Linked DNA regions of Homo sapiens: all the other regions are linked to region 1. The links come from fine-mapping of genetic effects on gene expression. A gene starts in region 1. Each other region holds a variant in brackets. All regions are shown on one strand. Distances are between the middles of the regions.

The links.
Region 2: its variant is fine-mapped to the expression of VAV2 in whole blood (TOPMed, PIP above 0.99). The same link has a PIP of 0.9 or more in blood mononuclear cells and monocytes.
Region 3: its variant is fine-mapped to the expression of VAV2 in monocytes (Quach 2016, PIP 0.95).

What each region holds. Positions count from the first base shown.
Region 1 is chr9:133,988,203-133,998,365 of GRCh38, reverse strand. It overlaps VAV2 (vav guanine nucleotide exchange factor 2), which reads left to right and starts at 6,042. Exons shown (of 30, transcript NM_001134398.2): 1 at 6,042-6,291. The coding sequence starts at 6,088. RefSeq lists silencers at 3,783-3,882, 5,330-5,639, 5,740-5,839, 5,900-6,049, 6,320-6,409 and 1 more and enhancers at 4,730-4,919, 4,816-5,543, 6,272-6,999, 7,000-7,727, 7,728-8,455 and 2 more.
Region 2 is chr9:133,782,058-133,790,057 of GRCh38, reverse strand. VAV2 (vav guanine nucleotide exchange factor 2) reads left to right here. Exons shown (of 30, transcript NM_001134398.2): 14 at 715-800; 15 at 1,572-1,704; 16 at 2,798-2,812; 17 at 4,173-4,282; 18 at 5,640-5,741; 19 at 6,467-6,555. Among named protein-coding and RNA genes, the nearest start is that of SARDH, 48 kb to the right of the region's middle. RefSeq lists a silencer at 2,110-2,269 and enhancers at 2,556-3,108, 3,380-3,789. The variant C/T (reference allele first, on the strand shown) is at 3,551.
Region 3 is chr9:133,876,006-133,884,005 of GRCh38, reverse strand. The region is part of intron 2 of VAV2 (vav guanine nucleotide exchange factor 2); the gene reads left to right. Among named protein-coding and RNA genes, the nearest start is that of VAV2, 110 kb to the left of the region's middle. RefSeq lists enhancers at 730-1,463, 6,604-7,337, 7,338-8,000. The variant T/C (reference allele first, on the strand shown) is at 4,352.

The DNA of each region.
Region 1 (10,163 bases):
TTCCAGGATGGGTGGAGGGATGGATAGAGGGAGGGATGGGTGGAGGAATGTGGGAGGGATGGATGGAGGGGTGAATGGAGGGAAGGACGGCGGGATGGGTGGAGCGATGAGTGGAGGGATAGGTGGAGGGATGGGTGGAGGGATGGGTGGAGGGATGTGGGATGGGTGGAGGGATGTGGGATGGGTAGAGGGAGGGATGAGTGGAGGGATGGCTGGAGGGATGTGGGATGGTTGGAAGGAGGGATGGGTGGAGGGATGTGGGATGGATGGAGGGAGAGATGGATGGATGGAGGGATGGATGGAAGGAGGGATGGGTGGAGGGATGGGTGGAGGGATGGGTGGAGGGATGGGTGGAGGGATGTGGGATGGATGGAGGGAGAGATGGATGGAGGGAGGGATGGATGGAGGGATGGAGGGAGGGATGGATGGAGGGAGGGATGGGTGGAGGGATGTGGGATGGATGGAGGGAGGGATGGGTGGAGGGATGTGGGATGGGTGGAGGAATGTGAGAGGGATGGATGGAGGGATGGGTGGAGGAATGTGGGAGGGATGGATGGAAGGAGGGATGGATGGAGGGATGAGTGGAGGAATGTGGCATGGATGGAAGGATGGGTTGAGAGACGGATGGATGGAAGAGTGGGTAGCAAGATATAGGAGGGATGGATGGAGGGGCAGGTGGAGGGATGATGGACAGACTCCAGCCTTGGGCGGAGCTCCTTTGAAGAAGCTTCAGTCTATCCCTGGGATGCTGGCTGTGGAATGAGGGTCCCCTGAGCCTTGGACCTTTTGATGAAAAGTACTGAGACCTTGCAGCAGGTCTTGGTGTTTTTTGGGGGAATACTGGACTGAGACAGTGCCCACTCTGGCTGTATGGAGGTTCTCTGGGAGGGCCTGTATGGAAAGAAACAGTCTTGAGTGAGAGGTAAACTCTCAAGCCCTTCCACTGTGGCATGTAACGCGCTAAGGGACACATGTATTCCTGTTCAGAAACCAGACCCTGGGGCTGCCCAGAGAATGAGGACACCAATTTGATGAGGGCAGCTCTGCAGAAACCCAGGGGAGGGGCGCTGGGCCGGTCGTGGACTCAGATTGTCCTGTGCCACTGCCCTTGAAATCATTATTTATCAGTAGAAAACAAAAGCAAACCTCTCAGCTGGAGGCATAGGAGAAGGTGGACCTGAGTTCGAATCTGAACTCTGCCAGTTGCATAACCTTGGCCAAGTCACTCAAGCTATGTGAGCCGACCTCATCTGTAGCACAGTACGATGACAGTCCTCGCCTCCTAGGGTGTGGGTGGTCCTGGCTCAGGGCCTGGGTGCAGGAAGGACGTGCTGAGTTGTAGGTGGAGCATCACTCGTGGTGTGAGTGACTGGGCAGAGAAGCCAGAGGGGAAGCCCAGCCATGCTGCCCACATAAGGGCAGCCACCTGTCTACCCACTCCTTCCTCCAAAGGTCTCCTCTCTGGGACCCCGAGGATCCAAGAGTCACCAGGTTTCCAGGACCTCCAGGATGCGTGGATATACTTCCAGCTGCCCTTCCCTCCTTTAAGTCAGTGTCGGACCCTTCGGCTCCCGTTTCTTAGCCTTGCTACTCCTGCCTGTACTAAGGGCTCATTTCGGTACCACAGTGGCGGGGCGGGGGGGTGTGCCTGTGGGCTCCAGGCACTGCGCTCTGTTGCTGACTCCGTATCCACGTGTTCTAGACATCAGATCATTTTCCCTCCCTCGTCACCTCCCCACCCACATCAGTGCATTAAGGGAAAGCAGAAAGTTCTAGGCGTGGAAAGCCCTTTCAGCAGCAGCCTCTATTTAGGGGTGCACACAGGTGTCAATAAGGCCTGGCGTTTGGACTTGGCTTTTTCCTGTGTTGCTGGGTGACCTTGGGCAGCTCACCAATGTGCTTGGTGAGCTGGTTTTTATGTTGGACCACTCAGTACAATAACAGTGACTAGAAGTGATGGAGTGGCTTGTGGTTTAAAGGAGGTGACCATCACCTAGGCCGGCCACTCAGACTCAAGACACAGGATTGGTTACTGCAACTATGAATGCTGTTAAAATATAACGGCTTGAAAGTGACAATGTGCGACGTAACTGCAATCTTACGTAGTGTAACGTTAATTCACATAGCGATAGTGTTAAAATATGCCACAAGTCAATAAATAAGATTATATTGCCTTTTATTTTTTATTTTTTTTGAGATGGGGTCTCACTTTGTCACCCAGGCTGGAGTGCAGTGGTACGATCTCGACTCGATGCAACCTCTGCCTCCTGGGCTCAAGTGATCCTCCCACCTCAGCCTCCCAAGTAGCTGGGACTATAGGCGTGCACCACCATGCCAGGCTAATTTTTGTATTTTGGTGGAGACAGCGTTTCACCTTGTTGCCTAGGCTGGTCTTGAACTCCTGGACTCAAGGGATCCACCCGCCTCAGCCTCCCAAAGTGCTGGGATTACAGGCATGAGCCACCACGTCCAGCCTCCGATTACATTGCCTTTTATAAGCTGTCTTTGGATCAGTTTAACGCATCTGTGGCTTCCATGAAAGAATATATTGGATTTAAAAATTACAATTACAGTGATTTGCTAGATTTTACCTCCAGTGAGGCGGGAGCCCCGAGGTGCCCATCCGCGCAGAAGAGAGACAGGGTGTCACTGAGGGCCGACTGGGTCCTTGCTGGCTGCGGAGGACAGGTGGAAGGGTGGAAGCGGGTCCAAGGAGAGGGGGCCTGGGGCTTGGTGGGGGTGGGCCAGGAGGGGGCAGATGCTGGACAGAACAGGAAGGTGGACTGCTGGGACTCGCTGCCCACATGGCTGCCGGGGAGAATGAGACAGGAGCTCAGGAGGACACTGCGGTTTATTGTTCAATGCCTGAGATCATGGCAACACTGAATTCCTTTGTGGTTTAAAAATCAACTCCTGTCCAAGCTCTCCATCCTCCATGTCACCCTCTCCTAGTCACTGCAACCATGATCAATCTCTGGTTGTCAACTCAAACCTCAGTTTCTCCTGGAAGCCTTGCTGCTCCCTCCCCGGGTGTGCCCTGCCTGGTGCCCTCCTCCGCCACCTGTGACCCTCCCCCATACTTGGGGTATGTGGCCCATGCTGGCACTTCTTGCTCCCTGGTTTAATCTGCTCGGCTGGACTGGCAGCTGCTCACTGGCAGTCTGTGTAAGCAGCTCCCCCTGGAGCCCATCTCCAAGGTGTGATGGGACTCTCGCCCCCTGGAGGTGTGCAGCAGGCAGTCCTGGCAGACAGCCCTGAGTCCAAGTGGACATGGATGGTGGTAGGATTTTCCCAAACAGCGTCCTCTCTATTAGTCTTCCTGGCATGTGCCTTGAGTCCACAGTCTCAACCTGTTCATCATTACACTCACACTAAAGGTTACAAAGGGAGCTCCTGCCCCATTTTCTTTACCTTTTATTTTATTTTTGAGACAGGGACCCACTGTGTTGCCCAGGCTGGTCTTGAACTCCTGGACTCAAGCCATCTGCCTGCCTGAGCCTCCCAAAGTGCTGGGACTACAGGCTTGAGCTGCTGTACCTGGCCCCACCAAACTTTTGTTCTTTGATTCACATCCATCCTGCCCTCAGAGCCTCCAAGGATTCTGGGAGGTGCACAGGGCCGGTGAATGTCCTATGCCGATCAGGACCTGGGAACCAGGGAGGCCTGAGTGGCTCAGGGCCACTGTGGTGAAGTCTGTGTCTCCTGAGTTGGGTCTTCTCAACGGTCAACCCCAGATTTTCTGTGCAGCCCCTCCTGGGTGCAGCCAGGTGCCCCGTGGTGACAGCACCACCAGGGGGCAGCAGGTACCCATGGCATTGTTGGCGGGCGGCTGCCTGGGTCCCAGACCTGGCTGGTCCTCTTGGCCAGAGCAGGCAGGCCCAGGACCGTGAGGACAGAGGCCCCCTTCTTGCTGAGGGAGCCACCTGGGGAAAGAGACATTTAGTGCATCAATGCGCCGGCGGTCCAGGCGAGGGGTTGGGAGAGTGGGTAGCTCTTCTTCCTCTCTGAGCCCTTTCTGTCCCAGCACAGTGGGAAGCCTCTGGGTAATTTATCCGTCCATTCTTCACAAGCAAGTCCAGTGGGAGCCGGGTCTCCCCGCTCTAGAGAGGAGGGGATGAGGCTTTGCAGGAGGAGGGATCAGTGTAGGCTCTCAGATGGGGCTGGAGGGCCCCGCTCAGGTTTCACTCCTGGCTTTCTGATTTCTTAGGGAGATGCTGATGGGTCCACCTGCTGCCCCATCTTGCTTCGGTGAGGAAAGCTCTCCCCCTTGCCCTAAAGGTGCCCACTGCTGCTTCCTCGGGGAAGGGCAAGAGACCTGAGCCCCCGCCTCACCAGCCACCTGGCCTGAGTTTACTGCTGCAGGGGCCAGCTCCTTCCTGACCTCTCTCTACGGGCCAGACCCTAAGCTGGGACCCCCTGCTTCCACCTCAGTGGAGAAGGGGTGAGTCTGACTCTGCAGAGACCAATTTCCAGGACAGGACCCCCATCGGAGGCCCTGGGCCCAGGGGACCCTCTCTGCGCTCGCATCCCCGTTCCGGCCCCTGCGCAGGGAAGCCACGGGGTAAGGGGTCCGGGGGCTGCAGTGCAGCCCCAGCTCATACAGGCCCAGGATTCCACCGGAGTCCAGGGTGGGAGCCCTCAGACACCGCACCCCAGCCTCCGGGCTGAGCCAGTCTCAGAGAAGGGCTTGGACTTGCCTGGTGTCCCCCAGTGAATCAGCAGTGAAAACCCGCGGTTCCCGGCAGCTGAGCCAGGATCCATATAATTTCAGTTGCAGAATCTGTTTGTCCTTGAAGCCCCTCCTACCGTCACACGTTGCCAGCTGGACAGACCGCGCCCCCACCACCCAGGGTGTGGCCTAGAAGGGAGATCAGGGCGGATCAGCACCGGGGCCGGCTGCGACCCTGGGCCGGAGAGCACCTTCCTGCCCTCACTCATGTCACGCATTCCGCCCTGGACGCCAGGAACTGCCCGCTGGGCAGCTGCGAGTGGCCAGGACTTTGGCCAAAAGCTGGGGAATCCTGGCCTTTATGCAGGGTCGGGGGTCTTCCTATGGGCCCCCGGCCAGGGCGGAGGACAGGAAGAGGGCTCTGGGAGTCCTGGGCCCGTGTGCCTTCAGCCTCAGCCTCGGGTATCCCGCCGGGGCGGCTTGATGGGCCAAGGGGGCTCAGTAAGCTTCGGCCCAGCCCGGTGCCCTCTCCCGAGTCTGTCGTTACCGAACGGCCATGCGAGGGCGCCCAGCGCGACAGGGACCACCTCCTGACCTCCACGGAGGACCAAAGGCACCCGGGGGGACGCCCGGCCATCACTCCACGGGCGAGGTCGCTCCCCCAGGGAGAAGGGCTCCCCAAAGTCCGAGCGCCCTTGGAGAAAGTCGGCCGGACCTGGGCCTGCGCCGCAACCCCCGCCCACCGCAACTTTCGCGGGCGGTAGCGGGGCAGGAAGTGGGGGGGCGGGGGCGGCGCTTGGGACACGGGGAGGTGCCAGGCGAGTGCTCCGGCCCCGCCCCTGCCCCGCCCGGCCGTGGCCGCGCCCCCTGCGCCCCCAGCGCCCCGGAGCCGTGGAGCCGCCGAGCCGCCGAGTCGTCGAGTCGCAGCGCCGGGCGTGGGGACTGCGGGTGGGGCGAACAAAGCGGCGGCGACGCGGGCGGCCCAGGCCCGGGACGCGCGGAGCGAGCGACCCCGCCGGGCCTTTGTCTCGGGCGGGGCAGGAGCCGCGGCGGCCGCGGGGCGCCCCGAGCGCAGAATGCGGCGCCCGGCGGCGCGGATTGGGGAGCGCTGCGGCGACTGGCTGCGTGGAGCCCGGCCCGGGGCCCGCAGGCACTTGCGTGTGTGAAGCGGGGAGATCCGGCGCGCTGCCCGTTGCCCGCCCCGCGGCCGCACGTGGGCGGGAGCGGCGGCCCGAGAGGAGCCCGAGGAGTAGGAGGAGGAAGAGGAGGGGACGCACGGCGGCGCAGCGGGGGACCTGGGGCAGCCCGCGCGAAGCCCCGCCCCGGCCCTGAGCCCCGCGCGCGCGCGGGCGGGATGCCCCGCGGCCGCTGCACTTTGGCTCGAGCACTGCCCTGAGCCGGTCGGGCCCGCGGGCGCCATGGAGCAGTGGCGGCAGTGCGGCCGCTGGCTCATCGATTGCAAGGTCCTGCCGCCCAACCACCGGGTGGTGTGGCCCTCGGCCGTGGTCTTCGACCTGGCGCAGGCGCTGCGCGACGGGGTCCTTCTGTGCCAGCTGCTGCACAACCTCTCCCCCGGCTCCATCGACCTCAAGGACATCAACTTCCGGCCGCAGATGTCCCAGGTGAGCGCCCGGCGGGCGGGAGGGCCCCGGGGAGGCGGCGTTCGCGCTGCCCGACGCGCGGACTGAACGCGGAGGTCGCAGCGGCGGCGGCCCAGGCGCCCTGGCTGGGGCGGCCGGGCTCCGGGACGCGGGCGGGCGGCTGGAGGGTGCGCCCCGGGCCTCCGAGACGCGACCTCAGGAGGCGCGAAGTTGGCCAAAGTCCCCTCAGCCTGGGTCGCGCCGCCGCCGCCCGCGGGCACTGCTCTGGTGCGCCGGTTCCGCGGTCTGCGCGGCCTGGGATGGGGGAGGCTCCGGCGCTGCGCTCGCTCTGCGGGGCCCTGCGAGTGGCCCCTCATTTCCCAGGGAGCCTGCCGAGCCGGGTGTGCGCGTCGTGGGTCGCATCCTTGGGCCTCGCGCCTCCTGGCCGGACGCCGGTGGAAGAGCGGGCGCGGTCGCTGCGCCGGCCCGGGGCGCGGCTGGAGGGCCCGGGAGGGGCGCGGGGCGGGAGCCCTCGGGGCCGGAGGGAGCTGGGTTGGCCCCGGGCACCGCCCCCTCGCCGGCCTCCGCCTCTTCCCGGACCCGGACCCGGGCCACTTGGCGCCAGTCCTGGCTCCCGGGTCGAGCCGCCTCGAGGATCCCCAGGGCCACTTGGCCCCAGTCCTGGCCCCCATCGCTTTCCCAACACCCCCACCCCTCCTTCGGGCGCTGAGTGTGGCCTTTGTCGCGGCGGAGGCACGCGTGCGGCCGCAGGGCCAGGCAGGAAAATGCCTGCCCAGCCGAACGAAGCTGCTTTTCTTGGCCTCTTAAGAGGGAACTTGGCTAAGACTTGAGAGAATCGAGGCTTCCGTCCTGTTCTCCGGGGGTCGCGGAATCCTTACCGGGAGCAGCTTAGAAGAGGTCGGGGGAGGCAGAGCGGGTGGCAGCCGGGTCCACCCAGCGCCGAGGAGGTGCGGTCTTCCAGCCAGCTCAGCAGCCCCTCACCGCGCGCAGTGGCAACTCCATGTGGAGAGGGACCATTCACCAGTGGGACTTAGGACGTGGTTCCTGGGAAGGAGGGAGAGTGAGTCACCAGCGATTCCAGGCTGGGCAGCGAGGCCTCTGCCCTTTGGCGGTGACTGCGTTTCCTAGGAGACCGGGCCTTTCTCTGCCGGGTTGGGGGGCGCTGACAAAGGCAAGCCCAGAGGGGAAGGGGCCGCCTTCCCACTGGGTAATGATTACCCAGCACTGCCTGGACCGGCTTAGCAGGAGCCCTCAGAGGCCTCCCTGGGAGCCAGCGCCTCTTCCCGCAGGATGTCAGTGGTCAGGTGCAGGTGGCGGGGGTGGCGGTCACTGCTGCAGAGGGCTTCCCCGGATCTGTTCTCAGAGCCCCACGGGGACTGGGAAGTCTGGACTCCATTTTATGGCTGGAGAAACTGAGGAGAAGGGTAGCTGTTGGGGAGCAGGGCTGGGCCTCGAACCAAGGTGGCTGCCTTTGATATGAGTTCCAGGGGCTGCCCAGGCTGACTTGCTCGGGCAGGATTCCCTGCTGCTTGCAGGCTGGGGCTCAGGGCAGAGGCAGGGCAGCTGGGTCCGCACAGAGGAGGCTTGGGAGGAGCCCAGCCTTGCCTGGTGGACTCGCTGGGTCCGGGGGCTGCCCCTCCCCAGCTGTGGTTTGGGAAGATGGGAAGAGGAGGGGGCCGTGGCTGTGGCAGGTGGCTTGGCTCAGCTCCTGCACTGGAAGTTCAAGCCAGAGACTTCCTGGGGTCTCTGGAGCCATTGGCCAGGCAGCAATACGAACCCTGACAGAGGCCCCTTGAGCCCTGCTGCTGGGGGGTGGACGGGTGTCTAGGGGTCCCGCTGCTGGGCCGGTAGAGGGGTGTTTAGGGGCCCTGCTGCCGGACTCGTGGAGGGCGTGTAGGGGCCTGGATGGTAGGAGGACCAGATGGGTGTGTGTCTGTGTGGCTCTCCGCTCTGATTGAATCCTGGCACTGTCCCCTCCCAGGTAGGCAACGACCTCCAGAGCCTCAGTTTCCCCATCTCTGTCATGAGAACAGTCATAGCAGTCCCCTCGTAGCCATGCTGTGAGGATTTGCTAAGGGCAGGCACAGAAGGCACACCCTTCGCACAGTGCCCAGGAAATGACCGTCACCTGGACTGTGGCACGTAGTGCCCTGTGTCGCTGAGGCTGATCTTGCCATCCACTCCTCTGTCCCGTGGAGGGTGGGCCACCTTTGTACGGCTGTTGCCTGCACGGGGACGGCTGCAGATGCTCCCTTAACCCTCACATTGGCTGTGACAGCCCCGCCTGTTCATTCAACGTGGAGAAACCACTTTACTGCATCTGGCTGCACACAGGGGTTGGGAGAAAGACTTCGTTTCTCTGTGTGGCTGGTGTTTGTTTTCTGGGAAACTCACTTTTTTTTTTCTTTTTGGAGATGGAGTCTTGCTCTGTCGCCCAGGCTGGAGTGCGGTGGCGCAATCTCAGCTCACTGCAACCTCCACCTCCTGGGTTCAGGCGATTCTGCTGCCTCAGCCTCCTGAGTAGCTGGGACTACCGGCACGCTCCACCACGCCCAGCTTTTTTTTTTTTTTTTTTTGAGATAGAGTCTCGCTCTATTGCCCAGGCTGGAGTGCGGTGGCACGGTCCCGGCTCACTGCAACCTCCACTTCCTGGGTTCAAGCAATTCTCCTGCCTCATCCTCCCGAGTAGCTGGGATTACAGGCGCCTGCCACCATGCCCGGCTAATTTTTTGTATTTTTTGTTTTTTTTTTTTTTTGAGATGGAGTTTTGCTCTTGTTGCCCAGGCTGGAGTGCAATGGCGCTATCTCAGCTCACCACAACATCCACCTCCCGGGTTCAAGCGATTCTCCTGCGTCAGCCTCCCAAGTCGGCTGGGATGACAGGCATGCGCCACCATGCCCAGCTAATTTTGTATTTTTAGTAGAGACGGGGTTTCTCTATGTTGGTCAGGCTGGTCTTGAACTCCTGACCTCAGGTGATCCACCCACCTCGGCCTCCCAAAGTGTTGGGATTGCAGGCGTGAGCCACTGCACCCAGCCTATATTTTTAGTAGAGACGGGGTTTTACCGTGTTGGCCAGGCTGGGCTCGAACTCCTGTCCTTGTGATCCACCCGCCTAGGCCTCCCTAAGTGTTGGGATTACAGGCTTGAGCCACCGTGCCTGGCCCACGCCCAGCTATTTTTTGTATTTTTAGTAGAGGCGGCGTTTCACTATGTTGGCCAGGCTGATCTCAAACTCCTGACCTTGTGATCTGCCCGCCTCGGCCTCCCAAAGTGGTGGGATTACAGGCGTGAGCCACAGTGCCCCACCCACACCCAGCTCTTTTTTGTATTTTTAGTAGAGACGGGGTTTCACTATGTTGGCCAGGGTGGTCTCGAACTCCTGACCTCATGATCTGCTCGCCTCAGCCTCCCAAAGTGCTGGGATTACAGACGTGAGCCCCCGCGTCCGGCTGAAACTCACGTTTCTTAAGGGGTGGGGATGGGAGAGGGAAGAAGTCATCTCCACCCTTGGTGGTTGGGTCATAGAAAAATCACATCTGCCCTTTCTTACCTGCCCTGCTGTGGCCTAAGCACAAGCCTAGGTGGGGGTTGCTGCCTGTGTTTAATAGGTGAGGCCGTCAAGGTTCCGGAGAGCTTGAGTGACTCCCCATCACCCCACCACTCCTGCCCAGAGGAGTAAGTGGCAAAACCAACATAGGGATTGCAGTCTCCCTCCCAGGACTGTTTAAATAAATGATGACTGCAGGCCTTCCTAAGCTGGCTTACTCTCTTGTGGACTTTCTGAGGGATGTCCCTGGCCTCATTCTTGGGTTTTGGGTTGTCACGGTGTGTGTCTCTTTTCATGGGGTGGCAGGGGTGGGGGGTGGGTGCCTGTGATCCCTGGCTGGTGA
Region 2 (8,000 bases), 210 kb after region 1:
CAAGTTGACTGGGACTATGTGACACCAAAGCTGTCCTTGCAGCCTCTGGGGCTGAGACCTTGGAAGGAGACACTGAGCCTGTGCCTCGAGCACCTCCCAGGCAGGGCCCTGTTCGTGTCTTGAAGCATTTTCCTCCACCTTTTCCTGTCTGTGTGGACACTTTGAAAGCCACGCAGGGAACATGTCAAGAGAAGCTCTCTCTGAATCAGAAGAGTCACAGAGACAAAACCAGACAGACAACGAAAATGAACCTCAGCGAACCACACAGGGGTCTGAGTCGAAGCCTCACCCTTGGCAGGACCCCGGCCCCACCCGCCCTGCAGCAGATAGGCGCTGTTTGTTCTCTCCTGAACGTGGGGCTTGGGCTTCTGGCTTTTCCGACCGGGTCCCGCTTGGGGCTCCACACAGCGGCGGCCTCTGTGAACACAACCGGCACCGTCAATCGCCCTTTGTCCCCAGAGCTGAAGGGAGCCCCTTGGCAGGGCTGGCCAGGAAAGGGAGAGAAGCTGCCAGGCCCAGTCCCTTCCCGGTCTTCTGCACCCTCCCTCGTCCATCCTGAGCACCAGCTGGGAGCCACAGGGGCTGTTTCCCTTCGTCCCGCCTCTGCTGCCTGTGGGGAGTTCCCTTGGGTGCACGACAGTCTGCCCTGCCCGTGCGGTCAGGAGAACTGGGGCTGCTCCAGCCCCGGCTGACGGCCCCTCTCCTTCTTCCCAGCAAGTGAAACTGGAGGAATTTGGAAGACCAAAGATTGACGGGGAACTGAAAGTCCGGTCCATAGTCAACCACACCAAGCAGGACAGGTGAGCAGGGCGCGTGTTGTGGGCTGGGTGGCGTCCCGCCAGGGTCTGGCTCTCCCTCCCAGGGAGCCACTCCTAAGTGGCTCTGGAAGCCAGGCCTTCCTGTGGAAAGAGCTGCCTGGCGGTGGCTTTGTGTTGTTCAGTTTTAATTGCTTCCTTCCTTCTCGTCAGCGAGCGGGCGCCACAGCAGTGGGGCTTTTGTGCCTGTGGCGGGCACCAGGCTGGGCTGGGGCAGCCAAAGATGAGGGCCAGGCCCCTCACTGCCAATGCTCAGCCTCCAGGAACCCAAGACAGGCCCAGAGTGGTCGGATGGGCTCTTTGCCAAATGACTGCCGGAGAGTGTCCAGGCGCACGGTGGCCCAGGCTTGTCCAGGGCCCTCCTTGTGCACCTACTGTGTGCTGGGGCAGGGGTCACAGCAGATCTGGGTCCCACCCTCTTGAGGCTCCCAGTCCAGCGCGGGATCAACTGGGAGTAGCCGTCGGGGGTCAGTGCTGCATGGGAGGCCAGCGTGGGGGATGCAGGAGCCCCTTGAAGGGCTCCTGGCACAGCCTCAGTCACGGGGGTAGGGAGCCAAGGAAGGCTTCCTGGAGAAGCAGTGTGGGAACAGCCGAGACCTGACCGAGGCTCAGCATTAGCCTGGTGAGCCAGGTGAGGGCAGGGCTCGCCCGGAGAGGGAGCCGCGTGCCAGAGCCTCAGGCTCAGCTCCTGCCGCCTCCTCGGAGCAGAGCACACAGTGCTGGGGTGCTGATCCCCCGCTGCGCTGCCTGGCCCAGGTACTTGTTCCTGTTTGACAAGGTGGTCATCGTCTGCAAGCGGAAGGGCTACAGCTACGAGCTCAAGGAGATCATCGAGCTGCTGTTCCACAAGATGACCGACGACCCCATGAACAACAAGGACGTCAAGAAGGTGGGGCCTTCCGGGTCCCCCCTGCTACCCAGGAACGTGGGGGTGGCCTGGAGAGAGGCACTGGGTTCCAGACCCCAGGGGAAGGGGACTCGAAGTCAGCCGCTGATGCTGGCCGGGTGGGTTGGGGTGGGCGTCTCCGCTCTGCAGGAAGGCTCCTCTCTGAGTCACTGCCTCGCCGTCGTGACCACTGCTCATAGCAGGCCTGCTCCTCGCCGGGCCCAGCGCCCCCCAGAAAGGTGGGCAAGACCAGAATCCCACTCCCCAGTGAGGCGACTGAGGCAGAGGGGAGAGGCCACCCCAAGGCCTCTAGTGAGGGTGGGACTTTCAACCTTGGCTTTCCATCTGGCCAGCCTGACTCTAGCCCATGTTGTCCCTTGTAGCAAGCAGGCTTTCCTCTCCCGTCCCACCCTGCGGTGCTTGGAGGAGGGCTGTGGGTAGGTCTGGCTGTGGCTTGTCCGAGACTCTACATGTAGCTGGCTGGGGCCTGTGGCTGCTGGGGTGGGGCCAGGGCTGCAGGGGTGGGGCCTGTGGCTGCTGGGGCGGGGCCAGGACTGCAGAGGTGGGCCTGTGGCTGCCAGCGGGTGGGGCCAGGGCTACAGGGACGGGGCCGAAGCTGCTGTGGGGCAGGACCATGGCTATAGGGCTATTGCTGGCTGGCTGTCTGGTTCAGTCCTGCTTCAGCTGAGGCTTCTGCCCATGGCACTTGAGCAGCTACCGTGTGCAGCCCTGGTGGGGTGGGGGGCGGGGGTCAGGAGCCCTTGTTCTGAAAGTCCAGTCCCTGGCCTCCAGGGCTGGCAGTGTAGCCCTCGTCCAGACCCAGCAAGTGCAGACTGGATGAGCTGTTGAGGGTGACCCTCCCTGCCCTCATGCCCAAAACAAGTAACTGGGGCCCATGAGGCAGTCCTGCCACCAGCACCCAACACTCTGGGAAGAAATTCCTTTCCCCACTGATCACCCCACCCCCAGCCTGGGCACTGGGGGGTGTTCCACCTGCCAGGGCTCCTGGCGCCTCCACACTGCGGCACCCACCACAGGGCCGGGCTTAGCCTCTCACTGACCGTCTTCCCCTTCCTCTCCTCTCCATGCTTCCTAGTCTCACGGGAAAATGGTAAGCACCTAGCGCCCAGGTCCTCCCACCTGCCTCAATCATCCCAGCCTGGTGCTGGCACTTCTGCCCGGAGCCAGGGGACCCAGGGGCCTGAGGGGCTGGGCTCAGGGTTTTCTTGGTCCTTCGTCCTCCACTCCCTTTCCCGATGATGAAATGATTTGTATTCATGATGAAAGGCTTGCCCGCTAAGACAGTGTGAAAGGAAAACTCCGTGATCCTCAGTCCCTGGAGCTCGGGGTCAGAGGCTGGGGTTTCTTGGTCTCTCTTCAGCTCTCCATCATCCTTTTTGTTTTTCTGTGTTCTCTCCCTCCTCCCTCCCTCTTTCTCCCCTTTTCCTCTCTCTTTCCTTGTTTCTTTCCTCCTCCCATCCCCGCTCCACGCTTCCCCTCTCCATCCCTCCCTTCGTTCCTCTTTCCCGCCATCTTTTCTAACCCAGTAGGCTCCTATTTGCCAAACTCTTTTTTCTGGACCACTTTGAAAGCCCTTTGTCCGAGAGCTCGGAGAGATGGCGAGGCCTGTGGGGTGGCCGAAGGGGAGGCAGGGAAGGGGGCAGTTGTGGGTTGCTCAGTCGGGGATGGCTTCACGGGGGGTGCCCCAGGCCCATGGCTGTTCCCTGCCTTTTTGTTGTTACTGTTCTACTTCAGAGAAGTGAGGTTTTTTTAGCATCACATTTAGGAAGTGAAAGTGGGTGGTCAGGCCTCGTGGAGGGGCCCTGGGTGGGGCCCTGCGCTCATCCTT[C/T]CTGGGATCCTGCCCCCGCTTAACATGCATCTACATATGCACTCGGTGGAGCATCCTCGCACATGGGCGCAGGCAGGAGTGCAGACCTGCCCAGGCATGTGTGTGTGCACCCACAGGAGAGCACCCACAGGAGAGCACACACAGGAGAGCACCCACAGGAGAGCTCACACAGCATGGGTGCATGTGCATCATACGTGTTAGTACATGTGTGTACCTGCAGGGACAGATACAAGTGTGTGTGTGCACATGCTCACAGGAGCACTGGGCACACTCATGCACAGGTGCACACGCATAGACACGCGTGCAGGCACAGATGCACACCCATGCACGCAGGAGCACACTAGTATGCATGCAGAGGTGAAGGCACAAGCGCATATGTATTCTCACGTGAGGGTATGGGCACACAGCTATACATGCATGCATACAGAGGCACGTGTGCACGTACAGCATGGGCAAGAGAGCAGGTACACACGTGAGAACATGTGTTCACACAGGCACAGGCACCTGTGCACATATGCATATACACACGTGCACATGCTGCACAGGCGAGAGTACACGTGGACATGTGCCAGGATGTCTGAAGCCGTGTCTATTGCAAGCATGGCCCCTCTCCCCCCTGCAGTGGTCCTACGGCTTCTACCTAATTCACCTTCAAGGAAAGCAGGGCTTCCAGTTTTTCTGCAAAACAGAAGATATGAAGAGGAAGTGGATGGAGCAGTTTGAGATGGCCATGTGAGTTCCAGGGCGGCAGCCCCCAGGTCCCTGGCAGATGAGTTGTATGGGGGGTGGAAGCCCAGGTGGATTGTGTCTGTGGTTCCTCTCAGACCAGGGGCGGTGGGAGGCAAAGTTGGAACGTCAGGGACACAGACAACCTCCATCACCCCTGGGACGCCAGCCTCAAGCAGTGACATCCTCTTTAACAATCAGTCCAGAGTGAGAGGGCTCTCCCTCTGCCACAGCCTGTCCCAGGCAGGCTCCGCTGTCCTGCTGGAATGAGCCATCCCACCCTTGAGGCTGAGCCTGGCACGCCCGGCCCACAGAGCAGTGACCGGCTGGGAGTGGCCATGATGCCAGAGGATTCCTGGTGACCCCAGTCTTCAGGGTCTTACGGGCTGGCGGCTTGTCACCTGTTTTTGAAGCCACAGAACTATTTTTCCATGAGATCCAAGAGGACTCATATCCTAGATATGTGAAACAGAGAAAGATGATGAACGGGTTCCCGGAACACGGACCCTGGAGGGCCAGCAGGGTTGTCTGTGCTTGAGCTCTGCGGGCAGGTGAGCTGGGGCCTGCAGGCAGGTGCACTCGCCTCTCTGACCGTTTCTTCTGGTGAAATGGAGAGGGGAAGGCCTGTGTTCTGGCCTTTTTGGGAGGATCGAAAGGGAACCATTGGACACAGCAGGGCCAGGGCCTGGCTCGTGAGAATAGATGCAGCCAGCTGGTTTGCACCCAGGCTCTGTGGGGGAGGCCTGGGGCATCTTCTCTTCGGCCACTCGCTTTCCATGGCCTGTAATTTTCTCCCCAACATCCTATTGTGCAAAAGTTCAAGCGTTCATGGAAGCTGAAGCGACGTGATGGTGAATAGCCGTCTTCTCACCACGCTGCCGCCATCCGCGTCACCCCACCCCACCCCAGCCATCCAACAGCGGGTCTGTGTCAAAGTGAATTGCACACCAGTGCAGCCCCCCTGAGTACCTCAGGGGGCCCAATATTTGTTTAGCTTCTGAAATTTCAAGCTTATATCCAATGAGGCAAACAAATCTTAAGTATATGTTTTCTGAGTTTTAACAAATACCCACACCTGCCCACATCCAAGCCCAGTCAGGACCTTAGACCACCGTCCCCACCTGGAAGGTTCTCTCAGGCCAGTGCAGCAGTGTTAAAGCTTCTTCTCTGACCTGCCTTCTACGAGCAGGGAGTCTGGGCCCTGAGTCTGCCCCATGTTGCGGGCAGAGCCAGGCTTGGAGTCCAGGCCCTCTCGGATTCTGCACAGCCTGGGTCCGGAGCCCAGCTGGTTCCCAGGATGGCCACATGGTGGGGCTCGGGGAATCCAGTGGGTGTAGCATCTGCTCTCTTTCCCTCCTGCCAGGTCAAACATCAAGCCAGACAAAGCCAATGCCAACCACCACAGTTTCCAGATGTACACGTTTGACAAGACCACCAACTGCAAAGCCTGCAAAATGTTCCTCAGGTGTGGGAAACCCCCTGCTACAGCCCTCACCTCGCTCCACGCCCAGCCCAGGCCCCTGAGAGAGCTTAGTGTTCTATCTGTCCCATGTTCCCTGTGGGAGGCCCTGAGGGGTTAAGGGAGTATACCCCACAAGAGTCAGGCCCGTGCCAGGCATGGTGGCTCAAGTCTCAGCACTTTGGGAGGCTGAGGCAGGCGAATCGCTTGAGCCCAGTAGTTCAGGACCAGCCTGGCAACGTGGCAAAACTCTGTCTGTACAAAAAATACCAAAGTCAGCCAGGCGTGTTGGCCTGCTCCTGTGGCCCCAGCTACTCGGGAGGCTGATGTGGGAGAATTGAATAAGTCCTGGAGATTGAGCCTCCAGTGAGCTGTGATGTCGCCACTGCACTCCAGCCTGGGTGACAGAGTGAGACCCTGTCTCCAAAAAAAAAAAAAAAAAAAACGGCCCAGCCAAGCCCTTAGAGTTTCAGATCTAGCCGGGAGGTGATTGTTCCTGGGTGCCCGGGATGCTGTGTGGGGCAGGGAGGCAGGCTGGTGGAGGTAGGGGAAAGCAGGTGTCAGGCTGCCTGGTAAGGGAGGGTCCTGGATACTCAGGGCTATGAGGGATGTGTGTGCTGGGAGACAGCCAGCCAGGTGAGCCTGGGTGGGGACAAGGGCCTTGACCTTGGCAGAGAGGCATGAGGAGCCGACCCCAGCCTCGACCTCACCTCCTGCCCTCCCCTGTGCAGGGGCACCTTCTACCAGGGATACATGTGTACCAAGTGTGGCGTCGGGGCACACAAGGAGTGCCTGGAAGTGATACCTCCCTGCAAGTTCAGTGAGTACCCCCCTCACCCCCCCACCCCAGTCCCTGGCCACGCCTGCTCACTTCTGCCCCCTACCACCTGGGTACGGGCCTCGGGCACCATCTCCCACGGGGCAGCGACCAGATGAGGGCACCAGTGCTCACGTGCCCCAGAGCAGACACCAGACGCCTGCCGCACGTCACACACTTAACAGGAGACACAGCCGGGATGAATTCCATTCCAAGCCCTCTCTCCTAATGGGTACTTGAGGACCCCTCCCCATCTCCTGCATCCCCTGCCCCACTCCAGGAGGAAGCTTCTAGAATCTCCACCCCCAAACACGGCACAGAACATTCTCAACAGGTGCATGGAGGTTTCTCATCACAGAAACACCGGTCACCCTGGGTTCTCCCGGCGGGTGAGGCCTGGCCATCAGTAGCTATAGCCATGTTAGTAAATGGTTCAGACACACACACACATGCACGCATACACACATGGCACTTACAGTGGTTCCCTTCTGTTCATGCCCATTTAGGGAAGCTTGAGGCTCAGGGAGGGGAGAGGATTGAGCCAGGCTGGCAGTGGGCAGAGGCAGGGATGCGCCCTGGAGGCTCCTCTGAAGCACCTTGGGTCGGGGGCATACCTTTGGGGTTGTGCCCTGCTCAGGGCAGCTGGACAGCAGTGCAAAGCCTGAGACAGTTCTCTCCTGAGAGGTTTCAGACATCAGGATGTCACCTCCATCATCAGCCCCAGAAACTGAGGCTTGAAACTTTCAGCAATTTGTCTACACTTATTAGCAGAGCTTCTATTCAACAAAGAGCCCCCGGTGGCCCCAGGCCGAGTCTCTGGGTCTTGTCTCCTTGAGCCTCCTGAAGGTGTCTTAAGGCAGAAAAACAAGTCAGGCCAGCTTGTCACCCAGAGATTGTCACCCAGAGACGCCATTGCCCAGAATACATTTTGAGCTGTGATTTTAGATCAATGGTTAATTCACCATTTACTGTGAGTGCCAGCCCAGTACCCTAACCTGGGGAGAGGGCCAGAAGGTCAGCCCAGACCCCCTTGTCCCCATCACAGGCCCAATGCAGCCCCCTAGCTGTGCACAGGATCCCGCAGCCCCTGGAGTTAGTGCTGGAGGATTCCGCAGGCAGCCTGTGGCCTGAACGCAGCTTTTCAGCTGTGCCCATCAATACTGCCCTCTCGTGGTCGCATGTCCCCAGACGATGGCTGCAGCTACTTAGAATCTTTTTTTGCTTTCTCTGATTCTAAAGGTAATGTTTACTTATCAAAAATTTGGAGGAAAAAAAAAGAAATGAAATTTTAAAGAAAGTATCACCCGTGAACTTACCTAGAAATGATGAAAGGCAATGTTTCGGTATATTTCCTTCCAAGTTTTCTTTTTTTGTAATCTTTCTGTTCCTCCCCCGCCCCGCCCCCGCCGGATTATTAATTACTGATTTTCCGTAGAAAATTTGGAAAA
Region 3 (8,000 bases), 110 kb after region 1:
GCGCCACCGTGCCCAGCTAATTTTTTTGTATTTTAGTAGAGACGGGGTTTCACCATATTGATCAAGATGGTCTTGATCTCCTGACCTTGTGATCTGCCTGCCTCAGCCTCCCAAAGTGCTGGGATTACAGGTATAAGCCACCACACCGGGCCTACTAGAATCAATTTAAGCAAAGTTGCTAGTCACCTGTGGACCTCAAGTGTGAGTTTTGGGGTGTACTTGAGCCTCACAGTGGCACTGGATCCCGGGAGGGCTTCTCGTCCGCCACCTTGGGTAGTGAGCTCCCTGTCATGGGAAGCATGCAAGAAGCTGCTGGTGGCATTGCACAGGTGACCGGAAGCCTCCCCAGGTCCAGTGCCTGAGGGCCTGCTCCGGCCGAGCTGAAACCTGCCTGCTGCTGGGCCGCCTGCCTGCCGTGGCTGGGGATGACTTGGGAGTCTCTGCTGGGCTGTCTGCCTGCCGTGGCTGGGGATGACTTGGGAGTCTGCAGGGTGAGTGGTTGTTCTATCCCCTCATTGTTTCAACATGTTCCGACGAATTTTTAAGTGGCTGAGCTGCTGCAGCAGGTCAGCAGCTGACTCGGCTCTGTTCCTCTCCCTGGCCCTGACTGCCCACTGTGGCTCACACCCGTCAGCCCCACACTCACTTGGCACACCCCGGCAGGGAGGCTGTCTCAACGGATGGGTCTCTGCGCCTTCGCTCCTCTGTGGGTCCGCCATTTGTGCAGAGAATCGTTGTCAATTACCAGGGCTCTTCGCATGATTAGGGGAACGTGAAATGAGCAAATGATGAAGGGCCCATCTGCTCCAGGAGTGGTGTGTGGGGACAGCCGAGTCTTTTGCAGGCTCAGGGACTTGACTTTCCATGCCAATTAGGAGGGAAGGATCCAGAGAGAGCAGCAGGGGGTGGGGACATAGGGATGGAGCCTGGGGAGGTTGTTCCCTGGGAAAGAGGGCCATTAGGGGGCCAAGCCTGGCATGGGGTGGGTGTGGGGCCCACATCCCGAACCCAGGGTGCCAGAGGCCTCTGGGGAAGGTGGAACCCCTGTCCCTGCAGTCACAGCACACCGTCCCTGACTTCTTGGCATGGCAGAGTCCCTCTTGTCCTCCTGGGCCTCTCAGCTGTCGCCCCCTGCTCCCTGGGGGTCCTGTCTCAGTGGCTGGCTGCCTCTGCTGCAGGGGTTCAGGGGCCCCAGGGGTCACCTTATGACATTTGTATCCCTGAGTCTGTCTGCTCTGAAGGGCTGAGCGCTGTGTTTGTGACATTTATCCTTTTTCTGGCGTCCACTCTCTGCCATAGCCAAGTATCACGGACCTGGTGCCGCAAAACAAGGGGGATTTATTCTGCCCTCTCCTGGAGGCCAGAATTCCAAACTCAAGGTGTTGTCGGCAGGGCCACGCTCCTTCCAGAGGTCGCGGGGGTGGGGATCTGACTTCACATGGCCTCCCCTTTCTCCCTATGTCTTTTCTCTTCTTTTGAGGGCCCTGGTCACAGTGGATTAAGGGCCCACCTTACTCCAGGGTGACCTCATCGTCACTCATGACATCCGCTGTGATCCTATTTCCAAAGAAGGTGGCATTCTGAGGTTCCAGGAAGGACATGAACCGTAGGGGATGCTCTCCAGCCCCGTACAGATGTCGGCTGGCTGTGACGGCAGCATGTTCGGGCCAGGCACAGCAGGGCCGCCCCTTTGGGGCTGTGAAGGCTGAGCGGACAGGGTCTGTGCCCTTGGCGGCCTGCGTGCTTCACCTGCTTCACTGCAGGGTTCAGTCTGGACCCAGCATGTTCTTTGCCTTGCTTTCTGTTTATTGACAGTCTGCTTCCTGCCCTGGAATCTCCGAGAGCTCTGCAGGGCATGGCTGGGCCTGTCTGTCCACTGTGTCCCGTACAGCCTGGGGCCTGCCACACAGCTATCTGGGGATGGCTGCCTCTTGCCTCTTTTGTTTTCGGCACTGTATCTCTTGGGAGAGGAACCTTCTGGAGAGTCAGTGGAGACTAGGTTGAAACCTTGACGCCCTCCTTTGTAGCCCCGCACACTCGCTGGGCACCTGGCAAGCAGGAGGCGTCATGCTGGGATCCTGTGCCAGGCGCCCTGGCAGGTTCTCAGCACGTACTTGCTGCGTGTCTGATCTGCGCCCTCCCCAGTGTTGCCGTGATGCCAGCCGGGGCCACTGAACTCTTCCGCCCCCACACGCTGCCTGGAGTAGTATGAAGGATGGAGTTGGTTTTGATAGGACATTAAATAATTAATTCCTGTCTGGGCTGAAAATATAGAATATTAAATTATACATTTGGTATCAGACACATGAGAGGGCCTCTCAAAGTTCCCGGCCACTTGTAGGCCACCCTCAAGGACGTCTGGGACCTCGGCGGTTTCCAGTGGCTGGCTGCCAGGCCCACCATGGATCTCAGGCCTTTCTCTGCACCTTCCCCCTTCCTTGTGTTCCCAGCTGTGGACTGTGTTCCTCGTCAGTTCCTCGTCTCCACCTGCTGCCTCTGCTGGAGGCTCGAGCTGCCTGGGAATCCGTCAGAGCTTGCCTTGGAGACTCCTTTGCAGCCTTCATGCAGGGCCTCCCCTCCTGTCACCCAGGCCCCTGATGGGATGCAGGAGAGCTGGGCGCTCCTCCTTCTCAGTCCTGTTCACAAGCCCCGTCTCACTGGGAGGAACCTTGTGGGGCAAGTCCAGACACATTCCAGAGGGCCTTGTCCCACGTCTGCGCTCCGCTATCTGCAGATAGCATCATGCCTGCGGGAAGGCCGCATCTCTCTGTGTCTGGAGCCCATGGCTCCAAGGCAGCTTTTCTGGGGACAAGTTCTCCGGGTCGTATGGTGGGAAGCCCAGCAGCCTGAAGGCCAGTCCTAGCTCCACCACCTCGGGCCCTGTGCCAGCAGGGCCTCTCTCCCTGCCCAGCCTCTCTGGGACGTGGGTGGGCCATGGCCCCCAGCTCTGGGCTGCTGGCCCCTTGCTGAACCTGCCCCTGTATGGAGGGGGGTGTTGCTGCCCCCGGGAGCACCTGACAGTGGGGGGACTGTGCTGTAGCCACCGAAGGCAGCACCTAGGCTCATGCCCAGGGATCCTTGCAGTTCACCTGCCTCCATCCTGAGCCACGGCCAGTGTCCTGGAGGGCCGACCGCAGAAGCTGACCTGCTGCCCACCTGACCTGCCAAAGGGGCAGCCCCTGCTTTACCTAGATATTTTAGAGCAGTTTTAGACTTAGCAAAATTGAGAAGCTAGTGCAAAAGAAGATTGTATTCCACACCCGGGTCCCCCATCCATACCTCACAGTAGTTGGTGCTTTGGTTACAATGAATGAACCAGTGTGGACACATTGTCACTAACTGAAGTGACTCTGGCTTCCTCAGTTTCCCCTTTATGTCCTCTGTCCCAAGACCCATCAGGGACTGCACATCACATTCACTTGGCCATCTCTTGGTCCCCTGGGCGGTGGCATTGGCAGTGCCCCCCGCACCCACCCCTTCTTCATATACAAGATTCCTACTGGAGAAGCTGTCCCTGGTGCTTCGTGTAAAAGGCATCTTTTATAAAACCATCGGTCAGATCCAGCCTTTTCTGACCTGGGAGTTCCCCATGGCTGCCCCTAAGGCCATTGTCCTTCCCTGCCCGCCTTTATCATCTCATGAGTCCCTGAGCCTGGCTGACAGGTCCCTCACCACCTGCCTGGTTCAGAGGCTCCCTCTCAGCTCAGCTGCTTCCTGCCCACTCTCCCTCCCCGTGCTGCCTGCCGGCTCTTTCCTCCGGTGGGGCACACAGAGCTTCTTGGGGACACACCTTGTACCCTGGTGTCCAGGGCTGCTCGTGAGTGCCAAGTGGGCAAGGGGCTGGTGGAGGGATGCCTAGCCCCTCTTCCTGCAGACGGCGCAGGTGGGTCCAGGTGGGTCCTTCCTTGGCCTGTCTTCCCCATGCAGCGTCTCTTCTTTCTCCTCTACTTCCAGATGGCCTTGTCCTTATCCGTGTCCTCACTCTCATGGTTTAGAAAATCTTTTCTGGGAAAAGTGCATTTTTGAATCCTACCCTTAGACAGGAAAAGAAAAATCCATAAAGTGGCCATTTTGGGAAGTCCCTTGATGGGCCAGGATTAAGCAGTCATCAAGGTAAAACCGCTTGGAAGCAAATCTGGATGCCAGAGCTTCGTCTGCGGCCGGTTTCCATCTGTTTCCATAAACACAAAGCACCGGGGAGGAAAAATCACTTTAGACTTTTTTCCTGCAGGGGCTCACATTGCACAGATCGGACTTGCAGCTCGCAAGGCGGTAGGGATTCTCGGATAGGTTCTGCTTTGGAAGGGAGAGCAGGTTCTTGGTGGTTCATCTGAGCCAGCAGTGCTGTTCG[T/C]CCTGGTGTGTGCGGCTTGTTGCTTAGATTTGCATTTGGCAGAGGACTCAGATGTGCACTTGGTTGCCCTGTGGGTCTGTAATGTCAGGTGCTCAAGGCTGTGGCAGTGCCCCGGGGCCACCTACTGATCGATGCCTTCTTATAGGAGGCTTGCCCACATTTATGGTGAGCCTCTGACACACACTTGTCCATCCTGCAGGCCTCAAGGTGACAGCAGCCCCTCCAGAGGGCCTTCTCTGATTCCTGGACATCTCCTGCCCCTTGCTTTGCTTGATTAGGGACTCTGCTGGACTCCCCTGCTTCCCAGCTGCTCTGTTCTTTACCCTGCGGCATTGATCACACCCTGCTGGTTCCTTGGAGCTCCAGAGGTCACCCTAGCACAGTGCTTGGTACGCAGCAGCTGCTCAAAGTGTATTGCACACCTGAGTGAGGAAGCAAGAGCCCCCAGAGGGCCTCGTTACAGAGGAGGGCCTGGGGCGCAGAGAGCTCCGGCACTGCTGCGAGTCTGCAGCTGAGACGGGGTCCAGAGCCAGGTTCAGCAGCACAAGCCCGGCCCGGTCCCCTCTGGAAGACTATGTCACAGGATGCCTGGGATGGGGGCGGATGATGCCTGGGGAACGGGGGGATCCTGAGGAGACACCTCCCTGCCCCTGCCCCACCATGCTCCTGCTCCATGGAGTCAAAGGCTGGATTTGTTGATCTCTCGAATGGGGCGACCCGACCCTGGGGAAAAGGTTTCTGCCCCTGCGGAGGAGCCTGGCATATGTGCAAAGGAGGCCAGGCTGCCCGGGCCGAGGGCGCTTCCACTCCGAGTGCTCAGCTGCTGTCCCTGGCCCCTGCCCCCACTGCCCACAGCTTTGCACACCCATTGGAAACCCACTGGCTGGATCGGGACCCCCTGGTGTGGGTGGCGGGGACGTGGCCACTGCTTGGGGGATCCCCCTGCGGTTGTGACTTCCTGGGAATCCTCCTCCTGAGACGGGCGGCAGGTGGGGTCAGCAGGGATGGCCTCTCAAAGGTTAAGCTCTGTCCTGTGACAGACATGCACAGAGGACTTGGCGGTGGTGGAGGTGGGGGCTTGCATCTGCAGGAGGGGCAGCAACGATGATGGTGACTGCAGCGGGGCAGCCGTGGGCAGTGTGTTGTCTCCCTTACTCTTGCGGGTGCCGCTGCCCCCATCTCACAGCTGAGGAAACCAAGACTCTGCCTCACTCACCATGGGCCACCTGGCTGGGGATGGATGGGGAGCTGCGTTGGCCAGATTCTGAACAATCTTAGTGCTCAGTTCGGTCAGATCCTTTCAGAAACACACAGCCTCGATCGTGCTTGGGTCGCAGTTGGCTCTGTAGTGCGTGTGGTTCGTGTGAGGCCTTCCTTGTGTGGCTCCTACGGCCGCAGAGGTGCCAGCAACCTGTCCCTGGCCTCTGAGCCTCCCCTGGCTGCCACATGTCAGCAGAGGTGCCTGCCCCGTGGTACACCCGGAGCATCTGTGAGACGCAGGCCGGCGGAGAGTGCTGAGCTCAGCCCTACGCTGAGACTGGCAAAGAGACTTCGCCTGCTGAGCCTAAGGGCCTGGGTGGGCCCCACACCCTCCTTCACCGTCAGACAGCCTAGGGGAGAAATAGTGGGGGGTGTCGGGGGGCCAAGTGCTTTCCCAGGCCCTTCCAGGCACTCCTGCGGGAGTTCAGAGCAGGAGCAGGTGTGGAGTTGACGTCGCAGAGGAGATTCACGCACCTTCCTGTCCTGTGTTAACGCTTGCACTTAATAACCGAGTTACTAAGTCATCGCTTCAGAGATAAGGGTAGACACTGGAAAGTTATTGCCGTAGTGTTAGAGATACAGTTATTAGTCCCCTTCCCATTAAAATGGCCATTAATTAGGGAGGCCAGTGAAGCCACTGGAAACCCATCAGCCCCTCCAGGTGATGGCTACTGTCACCTGTCCCCATTAGCAGACTGGGAACGTGCAGTGGATGACCAGGCCATGAGAGGGGGGTTCTGGGGTGAGGCTCAGTCGGGAGGCTGAGGCCTTTCCTTCTGGGTGCTTTCCCTTTAAGAGCTTGCATCAGACCATCTAGCTGATGTGTGCAGGTGACCACTCTGACCCTCAGTTTCATCATTTGACAAGGGGCATAGTAACATTGACCTCATTGGGTGGTTGAGGATTCATGGAGGCAGTGGGGTAACTTTTGAGCCCAGAGCCGAACGTGTCACCCAGAACACAAGCACTGGCTCTTCCAAGAAGGTTCCTGGCAGTGTGATGGTCCCACCCTGCTTGTGGGCAGTGGCTGATTTTGGGCTTGTCCGCCTGGCCAGTGGATTGCTGTGTGTCTGGGGTGTGGGTCCCAGCTTTGTGGGCTGCATCTTGGCATCGTTGTGCAGAGTGTGGAGTGTGCCAGTTACCTGCTGGGGAAGAAAGGCGCTGGCAACTGTTTGAGGGCGGAGGGAGCCTCTCCTCGTACAGCCAGGGCATCCCGAGGCCAGAGGAAGGTGGCAGAAGGGGGTCTAGCAGGCCGGGCGGGGGTTCTGTGGGAAACAGAAATGGGGTGGTGGTGGCTCAGATAACCACGTGCCTCTCAGCCTCCCCTTTCCCCAGGTGGGTGGGGAGGGAGACTCGGGGCAGGCAGCGACTTGCTGAAGGCCACACCAAGGGTTTAAGCTCAGCCTTGCCCAGACGCCAGCCCTGGCATCCCCTGCCTTCCCCTCTGTAGCTGGCCACTGTGCGTCCAGACCCCGGTGGCCAGCCTCCCCCATTGTCCCCGTTCTTCAGGCCAGCCCTTTCTGTGTCTCCTGGCAGAAAGGACAGAGATGGTTTCTCTCTTCCCTGCCTCACCCCTGCACCCAGGCAGCCTTGATCAGCCTTTTAAACAGTTCTGGCTGTGTCCTCTCTGGCTGTGTCCATCCCTGTGGCCTCCTGCCCAGGCCTTCCTGCCATCGTGCACCTGGCCTGGTTAGAAGACTCCTTGGGGCCGCCCCCCTCCCGCGGTCCTGCCTTCCCTCCACCCAGTATCCTCTTTGCAGCCTGAAGCATCTCTCAAACACCAGCCTGACCCTGCACTCCCACTGCCCCAGGCGAGGCCAGCTCCTTGGCCCTGTGTCCGACAGGCCTCCGCTCTTTGGTCCCCTGTGTGGCCATGGCCGCTCTCCGGGCCTGTGCGTGGGCTCTGCCCCTGCACGTTCTCCTGGCCTTGGCTGACTGGCTGCTCTCCCTCAGTCCCAGGGGGCCTGCCTTCCTTAGGGGAATAGTCTTTGCTCCACACCCACCCCGTCCCTTGCCCCCTACCACTCTTGTCTCCACAGCGCCTCTGCTGGCAGCGGTCAGTGGTGCTGGGCGTGGGAGCAGGGCGTGCCTGAATGGGGCCATCCCAGGGGAGATGCATGCTCCTTTCCAATATTGTATTAGTCAGGGTTCTCCAGAACAGCAGCGCTGATAGCATATGGATAGATAGGAAGATTTAATACCAGGGACTGGCTCACACGATCCTGGGGGCTGAGAAGTCCTGAAACCAGCTGCTGTGAAGCTGGAGGTCAGGAAGGCTGGTAGTGCAGCTCCAGTCCTGATCCGAAGGCCCAAGACCCAAGGGGCCTGATGGCGTGAGTCCCAGTCTGAGCCCAAAGGCCTGAGAACGACGAGCGTCGATGTCCGAGGG